Homo sapiens: one gene and its partners. The protein of the gene in region 3 interacts with the protein of the main gene of each other region in a pairwise test. Each region holds a gene or a part of one and is shown on either strand. Other genes may lie near its edges. The genes, in order: FMO2, PNISR and TMEM132D.

Evidence for each region.
Region 1: the proteins of TMEM132D (region 3) and FMO2 interact in a two-hybrid assay, tested with the Homo sapiens proteins (one large-scale study listed by BioGRID).
Region 2: the proteins of TMEM132D (region 3) and PNISR interact in a two-hybrid assay, tested with the Homo sapiens proteins (one large-scale study listed by BioGRID).

The regions. Positions count from the first base shown.
Region 1 is NC_000001.11:171,188,173-171,191,829, reverse strand, and holds part of FMO2 (flavin-containing monooxygenase 2), read right to left. Parts: intron 1-3,657. UniProt on the Homo sapiens protein: Catalyzes the oxidative metabolism of numerous xenobiotics, including mainly therapeutic drugs and insecticides that contain a soft nucleophile, most commonly nitrogen and sulfur and participates to their bioactivation.
Region 2 is NC_000006.12:99,415,158-99,418,814, forward strand, and holds part of PNISR (arginine/serine-rich protein PNISR), read right to left. Parts: intron 1,272-3,657; 5' UTR 1,192-1,271; intron 591-1,191; exon of another isoform or gene 479-590; intron 1-478.
Region 3 is NC_000012.12:129,897,469-129,901,125, forward strand, and holds part of TMEM132D (transmembrane protein 132D precursor), read right to left. Parts: intron 1-3,657. UniProt on the Homo sapiens protein: Regulate neuronals morphology via inhibition of the WAVE regulatory complex (WCR), a complex that controls F-actin cytoskeletal dynamics.

The DNA of each region.
Region 1 (3,657 bases), on a different chromosome or scaffold from region 3:
CAGGTCTAAAACTCCTGAGCTCAAGCAATCCACCCACCTCAACACCCTAAAGTGCTGGGATTACAGGTATGAGCCACTGCGCCCAGCCCCAAGACCAAATAATTTTATGAGTAGTATAGAGTAAATAGGAGGGTTCTGGAGTCACACCGACTGGATTGATATCCTAATTCTGCCACCTTTAATGGCTTGTGACCATGAGCAAGTTACATAGGTCAGTTTCCTCATTTTCCTCTGTAAAATGGGGCTCATTAATAACTTAAACATGCAACAATTGTTTCAAGGCTTTAATGAGAGTGAATAAAGTACTTAGCAGAATCCCTGGCTCAAAATACATACTTAAGAATATTTATCTCTTTTCTGTTATTATTGGCCACTAGCGTTAAATTTACTAAGCCAGCCATAGTTTTGAATCAGTTAAACTAAGACTGTTATACTACAGCCAAAATGCTAGTTTTTAAAAGACCCAACAATTTGGCTTAAAAATGTGGTTGGCTTCTCTATCAGGTCAATTTTAAGGGAATTTTGAGTGATGAGAAGAACTGATTTGATGTCTGAGGCCCTACAGTAATCTTAGGGCCAGGGCAAAACTGGCCTTTGGGAGATTTTACTTGTGTAGTCTGTCAGCAAACAATAATGACCTCACTATTTTTCTGAAGATCAAGTGATAATCCCTTTTTTTTTTTTGAGACAGAATTTTGCTCTTGTTGCCCAGGCTGGAGTGCAATGTCATGATCTCGGCTCACTGCAACCTCCCCGTCTTGGGTTCAAGTGATTCTCCTGCCTCAGCCTCCTGAGTAGCTGGGATTACAGGTATGCGCCACCATGCCCAGCTAATTTTGTATTTTTAGTAGAGGTGGGGTTTCTCCATTTTGGTCAGGCTGGTCTCGAACTCCCGACCTCAGGTGATCCACCTGCCTCAGCCTCCCAAAGTGCTGGGATTACAGGCGTGAGCCACCGCGCCCAGCCAAGTGATAAACTTTTATTGTTGGGTTAATTGGTAAATAGCAGCTAAAAAAGACCCCCTTGTCTTCATATGTGCTTCCTTCTACATTTAGTTTGCTGAAGTAGGCATCTGTGTATTTAGACAAATCTGGGTAAAATTGGCCTAGTTTTCCTAGTTATGAAGAGATGATTAATGTTGATTTAATAGACAAGTATGTATCAAATGCTTGAACTGACCAGGGCCTGAGCTTGGATTTAGGGATAAGATGCTAACAGTACAAACATAGTTTATATCTTTATGGTGCTTATTGTTATATTGTATTAAAATGCACTTGAACTTTGGAGATGTGAAAGTGGAGACAGAGGGTTTATTGTCAATCAAGAGGAGGACAGAGGCACAGTTTTCAAAACAGATAAATTTAACTCACATATTTACTTAAGTACTACTACTGCCTGGATAATTAAGCATAAATATAGTCTGAATTTCCTTATGTGTAGAATTTGCTATAATTTGTTTAACATAAATTATCATATAATAAAGAATTCTTCTAATATAGAATTTTCAGAATGTCAGAAAACTCTAGCAAACCAAGTTAATTCAGATAGCACTTATTTAGAATTTATGATCTTTTGATCACGAGCTGAATTGAAGTTTATGTTTGACTTCATGACAATAAAAAGGTTGTAAACAGTAAGTTTAAAGAAGATTATAAGGGTAATATTTAATCTACTCAAGTGAGGAAATTTATAAAGCAGAAACAGATTTATTTATTATAAATGTGAATTACAAAAACTTACAAATTAAACTTTTTCTTCGTGAAACATCATTATATTGACCCTTACCAATCAATATTTTTGCTTTCATGGGTAGTTACCATAAGCAGTTAGAAAGAATAAAATTGCCTTTCTTTAAGAATATTCTGTGATTCTATCATTTCACTCTTTCGGATGGACCTTACATCTATCTGCTCCATTACTTGAATTGAATATGATTAAAACTCTTCTTACTTCCTTGTCCTACAATTAGAGGCAAAATTGCAATTCCCAAATGCCAGTCAGTGGACCAGTTGCATTAGAAGATGGGTCCAGATGTGTGGTGGCACAAGGCTGTAATCCCAGCTAAATCGCTTGAACCCGGGGGATGGAGGTTGCAGTGAGCTGAGATTGCGCTACTGCCCTCCAGCCTGGGCAACAGAGCGAGACTCCATCTCAAAAAAAAAAAAAAAAAGAAAAGAAAAAAGACGGGCTCAGATTTCTGTATTTTAGAAGCTCTCCCTAGCTGCTTCTGCACAATGAACTTTGTGAACCACATCTCTATTAGAGTATTGCTATCTTCTGTCATCTTTCATTAGGCTGGTGTCTCCCTTGATCACTGGCCTTGATCACTGATAGAACCCCCTAATTAAGTTCCCTGGCTCAGGTATTTACCACTTTTTTTCTGCTGCTTTCAAGCTAAAAGGTATACACTCATTGGCAATATGTTTGGAATGTTGGATCTTGGGGGAGCCAAATTTAAGAGAGAAAGTGATATTTCAGATTGAACTTAGAGGAAGAAAACCAAGATTGAGATATGTCTAGAGAGTATTACATGAAAATTAAAATAACTAAACATATACATCTGGAAAAGGAGGAGATCCAAATCCAAATATTAAAAGAAAACCCACAGGAAAAAAAATGTACATGGTAACTCCCACGTGAATACAAGGTATTAGGAACAATAAAGGAAACAGAGAAGGTTAGCGGCTGAAAGAAGATCATGTTTTCCTCTATCAATACTTCAGCAAGGTTATTAAGTGTGACAGCTCCGAAATTGTAAACCCTCGTTTTTTTTCTCCCGCCACCTATGTTCCCCTGAGCAAATTCTTTATCTGAAAACTGTTTCTTCTTAATATGTAAATAAAGATAATCATAATACATACTTCCTAGCAGTATTGCGAAGAAAAGAAGGTGATGCTTGCCAAGTGCTTCCCGTTGCTGGAAACAGAACGAAAAATATATGCTAATTACCTACCCGTCCCATGGTCCATATGTGCCACTAGGGGGTGCTGGAGAGTCTGGAAGAACTCTATTGTCTGGGTTGGGTATAGGACAAGGATTCTTAAATTTACTTATTTATTGTTAACTTGTCACCACCAAATATGTTAAGTAATCCCAGTAGGAGTTGTGTAAATACAAAAATTAATAAATAACCCATTTAAAAAATTGCTTCTGGATGGTAGAGTAGTGAAAAGGCAAAGTTTCCCAGGGAAGAGCATGGGGCTCCCAGCATCCTTCTTGGAAACTCCCAGTCACCTGGTAACCAAAACCCTCACATAGCCGTAGTGCAGGCAGCCTATGAAATTTTGCTTATTTTATGTTTCACTCTGCAGGGAGACTCTTTGGACTCTTTGACTTCGTTGAGTGGAGACAATAGTTTACATTCCTCTATTGGATATAGTTTTAAGAGAAATTTGAAATGTGATACTGTTACAAGTTCCACAGTTATATACTTAACCCTTAATATTCAATAAAGCCTAATTAATCAGGTTTTAATCCAGTTTTTCTAGTGAATAGGAAGTTATCTCTAATCTGAAATTTTAGATACTGGCAAAAGGATAGTTGGAGAAATATTTTACTGCAGAAAATACCTTCCTAGAATTCATCAAATCATATTGTTGGCAGACTGTTCAAACTAACTCTCATCTCTTTTGCTGACAATAAATCTGTGGGATGTGA
Region 2 (3,657 bases), on a different chromosome or scaffold from region 3:
ATATTAATTCAGGAAACCTTACAAGAAAAGTTGATGAGAAATCAGAAATTCAAAGGTTGCCAAAATATCACCCCTACAGATTATTAGGTGTCTACTATGCTCCCAGAATCACTAAGAATTCTCATCAAAAATGTTTAACTGAGTCCAACTGAGCTTTTGGATTTTACTTCCAATATAAAGCAATTTTAAAGGATAAAGAAATGAGATAAACGGTATTAAATCCAGAAAGTAAGACAGCCTCCAAGACCTGGTTTCTTAACATATAAATAGCATGGAAAAGATGGGAGGGAAGGTACTTTATGTTAATAACTATTAATTTAGGAGATGGTATGGGGGGGAATCATCACACTAGCCCAACTTTTCTGTAAGCTAGTCTGAAAACATTCCTAATAAAAGGTTTAAAAGTCTTACAAGTCTAATATCTTTGTACTTTATTCCAACACTGATACACAACCCTGTTCAAGAACCAGTGACTCACATAACCAGGGCATGGTTTCTTCTTTATTTTTGTATCCCAAGGCTTAGTTCATAGCAGGCATTTAATAAATGTTTACTAAATGAATCCTTCTAGATTGATCCTTTCCTGTATGCTAAAAACAAGATAAAAGCAAGCCTTTGTATTGCAGGATCACAAAAAGTAGGCAAGTTGGATAACAAAAAAAATAGAGATATTAACTCTAATAGGACAATTGGCGATTACAATTCAGGCTTTTAAAGGTTTCCAACTCCAGTCTTCGCAGCATTCCCAGAATGCCATACAGGTATAGTTCTATCTGCGGCAGATACTAATCCCTCAAATGAAGAACACTGTGAGTTATGGGAGGTGTATTTCTTTGTCACCTTGATTTACTTATGAGTCAAATGTACCTGTCTTCAAGTTACACTAATGTAATCAATTACAATGACATTATTAGAATATGGCAAAATAGGCACTACATAGCACAAATGAGGCCAACAACTGGTTTGGGTATCAGTTCCAAGTTAAATATATTTTTTTCTAACCTCTGTTCAGTGTTTCCTTCTTCCTCCCCTTTTTGTCCTGTCCAGTTTCCCAAGTACGCCTTTAGACTCCTTTAAGGCTAAATAGGTTATCAGAGCCCTTGAAAAGTAACTTCGCTTACAACTTTAATTAAGAGTTAACAAATAAATAGGAAACACCAAGAAGACACACCAACTGCTATTTAAACTGACCTCAGAGGTTCACCTTCTGTTTAAAACTTAGGTTGATTCAGACTACAGCTTCGAAGCATAGCAGCAAGATTATGTATGCCCTAGGGGGAAAAAAAGTAGATGTCTGCTTATAGATTATCATGATTCACATAAAAATAAATTCTAGAGATGCAACATAAGTGTGATCATCTCCAAGTTAGTCACTTTTCCTTGCATTAACTTTATAATGGGGAATTATTTTATCATAATAAAATCAAGGAAAAGAGATACACCAGAAATGAAGAGGCAAAGCTTTTTAACATCTTTTTTTCTTTCCAAATCTTTTATTTACTTGAACAATTCCTTCATAATAAAAAACAATGTCAAACAATTTAGAGATTGAGAAAAAAGGAACAACAAACATTTGAAATGAAGATCTCATCCACCTATTATTAACTTAGATGATACAAGGTAATAAAATGTATTAATTTAAATTTTCCTATAGAATTCTATGTTTAGAAATTAACATTAGCAAGGAGAGAACAGTTTGTTCCTGAAATGGTTTAGTTTCCTTTTTATTCAATCAACAGCTTTTTACAGTTGAAAGAAAGACAAATTTATTCATCCTTTTATCTTCAATAAGGTACAAGAAAGCATCTTGCACATAGCAGACACTAAATAAATAATCAGTGTCTAGCTATTACTTTCTGTTTAAAGGCTAATGATGAGGAAGCTGTTAACTTCTACTTATGAGAACCAAAAAGCTTGCTGTGCTTTCCAACGCTTTAACAGCTTATCAGAGTTCAATGCATAATTTTTCTGTCTTAAGTTGTAAACTCATATAATACAGACATTATCAACAGCTCTATAAAGTGCCTACTGAAACTGAAAATGTGCACTTACTAAAACCATTTAAATGATGAAAATGATGTATAATGACTACCTACCATCATTCCCAATCCATAAATTTACTTTTCCAGAAATTACTCTAAATAAAGGTTATTTTTCTTACTCATGTTTAATGGTTGTCATGGACAACTTTTTTAGTTCCCCTTTTAAGTTTTCTGGTCACCACTTGTCACCTAGACTTCAGAGCACAGGCTCTGGTTCAGGATGCCTACCTACATCCGTTCGTTAGTGGTGTGAACATAAGTAAATTATGCTCTAACCCTTGGTTTTCCAATCTGTAAAACAGAAGACCTAAATGTCTATACCCCAAAGGATTATTGTGAGGATTAAATAAGAAACACATAAAAACTAAGCATCAGAAGTTTCAATTCGTGGTGATTAATATCAATACTAGAGCTTTCCCACCATCACTTTTGGTAGCACTCTTCAAGTTAACAACTATTAGGGGGTTTTAAAAAAAAGGTGATCGGCCGAGCGCGGTAGCTCACGTGTGTAATCCCAGCACTTTGGGAGGCCAAGGCAGGTGGATTACCTGAGGTCAGGCATTCAGGACCAGCCTGACCAACATGGTGAAACCCCCGTCTCTACTAAAAAATACAAAAATTAGCCGGGCGTGGCGGCGGGCTCCTGTAATCCCAGCTACTTGGGAGGCTGAGACAGGAGAATTGCTTGAATCTGGGAGGCGGAGGTTGCAGTGAGCCGAGATTGTGCCATTGCACTCTAGCCTGGGCGACAAGAGCGAAACACCATCTCAAAAAAAAAAAAAAAAAAAAAGTGATCAAGCCAACCCACTTCTGCTCAACTCCATTTTCTTTTCCAGAAGCAATCTAAAACTTACAGAGGTTTCACTTTATCTTTGAAAGAATTCTTTAGTCTAAATTTGTCTTCCTGTTTCATGGGTTGAAACTTTTATTGTTATTATTATTATTATATTTTTTTTGAGAGGCAGTCTCGCTCTGTCGCCCAGGCTGGAGTGCAGTGGTGCAGTCTGGGCTCACTGCAACCTCTGCCTCCTGGGTTCAAGCGATTCTCCTGCCTCAGCCTCCTGAGTAGCTGGGATTACAGCTGCTCGCCACCAAGCCTGGCTAATTTTTGTATTTCAGTAGAGACGGGGTTTCACTATGCAGGTCAAGCTGGTCTCGAATTTCTGACCCAAATGATCTACCCACCTCAGCCTCCCAAAGTGCTGGGATTATAGGTGTGAACCACCGCACCCAGCTGAAGCTTTTATTAAAAAAAAAAAAAAAAGTTTTCCTATGAACAGAGGTTTTAATTTGCATATTTTCAAGGGTTTGATTTGTATCACCTATGATCATTTTTCTGTATGTTTAGAACAGCCACTTCTACTTTTGCTATATTTTTAGAAGCTTTTCTTCCCCAAAGTTTTGATGGAAGCTACTATTCAAGTAATATAATGTTTGGGACACTTAGGCTGAGAAAAATAGAAAAAAGATGTGAAATTGGGAAAAACAGAGCAGAATAAAAATACAGTAAAGAAGGTGATGGTAAGTTAAGGAAGTTAGAGGCTATTTATTAAAGCGCTTTAATTAAGTCTGGAGTTGAGAAACTTGATTTAGTTACAGAGGATGACTACTGGAT
Region 3 (3,657 bases):
GACATAGATGAATAAACAGGTCCTGAAGACAGTCCACTGGGCATGTCTGCAAGTTCTTTAAGAAGCTTGACCTAGGGAGGTGGGGGAGGAGGAAAATAAAAATAAAAAAAACAAAAAAGAAGCTGACCTAGGAGATAACCAAACCATTCCACACCATCAGAGAATCTCTTCTACCTCCCTGGTGGTCTTGGAAGTAAATCCCCATTTTAATCCCTTTCAGGTGTTATTTCTGATTGCTGCTGGAAAAAATAATGCTGAGAAAACTAAATAACATGATGTTCATTTATTCATTTGCTCAACAAATATCAAGGGTCATCTGTATACCAGGCTCTGAGCTAAAAACTAAAATGGTCTCAAGACCTCTCTGCACTCAGCCCCTGGCAAGCCTGGCACCATGTAACAATTCTGCCTGACAAACCGCCTGGTTTTTAGTTATTCCATATAATTATCAGAAGTCAGCAGAATGGCCAGGGGTATGGGTTCTGGCATCAGAATTCAGACTCTGCCTGTCTTTTATGTTGCTATGACTTGGAGAAGTTACTTAACATCTCTGAACTTCAACTTCTGGTCCAGTACATATCTACCCCATTGAGTTTATCTGCAAATTCACAAAAATTATCCTCATAAGTCACTCCGCACAGTGCCTGCCATACAACAATTACTCAAAACATTAGCTGGTATTATTGACCAAAGTATTTCCTGCGGCGCTCTGAATTACTGGAAAAGGCAGCATCAAACCACTGCACTGTCAGGTAAATGATTTCCAGCAATATTTCACACTCTTGGAAGCACAGTTAAAAATTGTATTGAGCCCCTGCAATGTCCAAAGCACAAAGCTAAAAATACTGGAGAGAAATCAGAGATAGAAAAAATACCCATTTTTTTGTCCCCTAGAAGAACTTAAAATTTAGGAGAGGAGGCAGAAAATAGTTGTAGAATGTCAACCTTGTGAAAGGCAGAAGTGCACTCCCCCAAAAGATATTCACATCCAAATCCCTGAAATATGGGAATGTTGGTTACTTTATTTGGAAATGTTAAAAGGCGACGTGACTAAGTCAAGATGGGAGATTATGTGGATCACTTGGGATCCTCCCAGTCCATCCGGTAACGCCAGCCCATCCTTCAGACAAGGCGAGTCTTCCCAGTTACTCTAAGTCAACTGCCAAATTATCTGCATCCAGAGACACTCGCCCCATCCTCCAGAGCACACCCACAGTGCTAACTTTATGTTTTTCTGTGTAATTCACATGTTCCCCTATCTCTCCTACAAATGGCAAGTTCTCTGGGAATAGTAACCATATCAACCTGTGCTTTTCCTCACTACGGTACTCCCTGTGCCCAGCACGGTATGGGGTGCATTGTTGGTGCTCAGAAGGCAGTTACTGTTATGAAATAGGAAAGGAGAGGGAACAAAGGAAGAGGGGAATGATGAATACGAAACTGCCCAGGTCTGAGCTTACAACTTAAAGCAACGGAGTAATGGTATGAGGCACTTTGACATCTAGAGGAATGACTGGCACTAAACATCCCTACCTAAGGACGCTTTAGTACCTGTCCTGTGTCCTCACAACACTTAGAAATAGTTCCTGCTGAGCTCTGTGTTCACTGAAGGCATGTGGCCTTTGACATTTGTTGAATGAATATGCAGATGGATGGAATGATGAATGGATGGATGAAATGATAGATGGATAGATGGAAGGATGGGTGGATAGAAGGATGGAATGATGAATGAATGGATGGATGGGCAGACAGACAGATGGAAGGATGGATGGATGGATGGATGCACGGATGGATGGATGGATGGATGGATGCATGGATGGATGGATGGATGCATGCATGGATGGATGGATGGATGGATGGATGGATGGATGGATGATGGATGGAGGGATGGATGGATGGATGGACTGGTAGATGGATGGGTGGATAATGGATGGATGCATGGATGGATGGATGGATGGATGGATGGATGGGTGGATGGGTAGATGGACTGGTGGATGGACTGGTGGATGGATGGGTAGATGATGGATGGATGGACGGATGAATGAACGGGTGGATGGATGGGTGGATGGGATGATGGGTGAATACATGGGTGGAAAGACGGATAACACCTGGATTAACAGAAAAATTGATAGATAAATTCTAAATATTGTGTAGCATAGCTTCTATAATAAAATATTTTTGAAATTTTTGTTGTTTACTCATTTTTTCTTGGCTCTTAGAATATAACTAAGTTAAACAGATCCTCAAACTTGGAATTCTACCTTTCTATGCACATAAATATTTTTAATAAAATCACATTTTGATTTAACTCTTTAATTCATACAAAACAAAACTTAGTGGTCTCTTCATTCTTTGTCTTTTCAATTTGACAGAATTTGAATGTAAGCAAAAAGCCACACTCTCTCTCTCCCCCACTAACTGGCTCCCTTCTGATATTCTTTCCTCTCCCAAAAAGTTCCTGACCCCTAAAGAAGTTATCACTGTACTTTGAAGCTCTTTTTGGTCCACAGCTTCCTTCAATAAGGGTGGTGCTGTCCTACCCAGAAGCTTCACTCTGACCCAATTAACACCCCAGTGTCATCAAATTGTGTCAAATGGAATTTCATGATGCAGATATTATTTATAAGCTCAGGGACAGTTCAGTTCATGTCGCAATGTATTCATATCACCTCTCCTCTAAGATTCTCTGATCCCTTGAAAGTTCTCACCCAGCTGGAAATCGAATATGAACTATATTTAACAGGATTTTAATTGGAAGTAAACACACAGACACACCACACACAGACAATGCAAAGTGCCTAAACTGTCTGGGGCTGATTGAAAAAGAATATTACCAAGTATTAAACATCCGTTTCAGCATATTATTAGAGGCCAGAAGCTCTACATATGGAAGCAGTTTCAGGAAGGCGCTCCAAGAAGCCCACTGCCCAGGCCATTGGCTGCACTCAGCTGGAAGCAGGCAGAGCACGTGCCCAGCGCCACCCTAGGCACAGGGAGCACGACACTGCCGCAGCCCCGCTCGCAATGTTGCAGGTCTCTCAGCGTCTGCTTCTTTCCTACCAGCATGTGCAAGGGAACATAACTGGGAAGGATGCACGTGAGGACTGTAACAAGCAACCTAAATGTGGCAACCCTCTTGACTTTGTATTTAAAAATCACCTTGCCCTCTGCCCAACTCCAATCTCCTCACCCATTTTTCCTCTCAGCCCACCCTCCATACACCTGCCCCCTCCCATAAAGTTCACAGTAATGCATTAAAGCTCATCTGCAGGCTAGCACCATTGCAAACTACATCAAGCTGCCAGCAAAGCTAGACCTTAAACATTTAAGGCCATTCCCCAGAAAAATTAGGGGCCATAGGACAAGGCTGCTGGGGAAACTCCGTGTGTCATACCATACTTCCTAGGTCCCAGGGGCATAGAAATACAAGCAACAAAACTTTATGTTTATTTGTTTTTAAAAAATATCTACAAGAGGGTGGGTTTGTTCTATAACTAATCATTTTCTGCTTATGAAATATAAACGTGTAAGGCTCAAGCATATTAACCTGGTATTAAAATCTGCCCTTTGTTTCATTCAAAAATTCCTATTTGGAAAGACAATACAGTAGAAATGATAATATGTGGAAACAGATATTTAATACTTGATAATATTCTT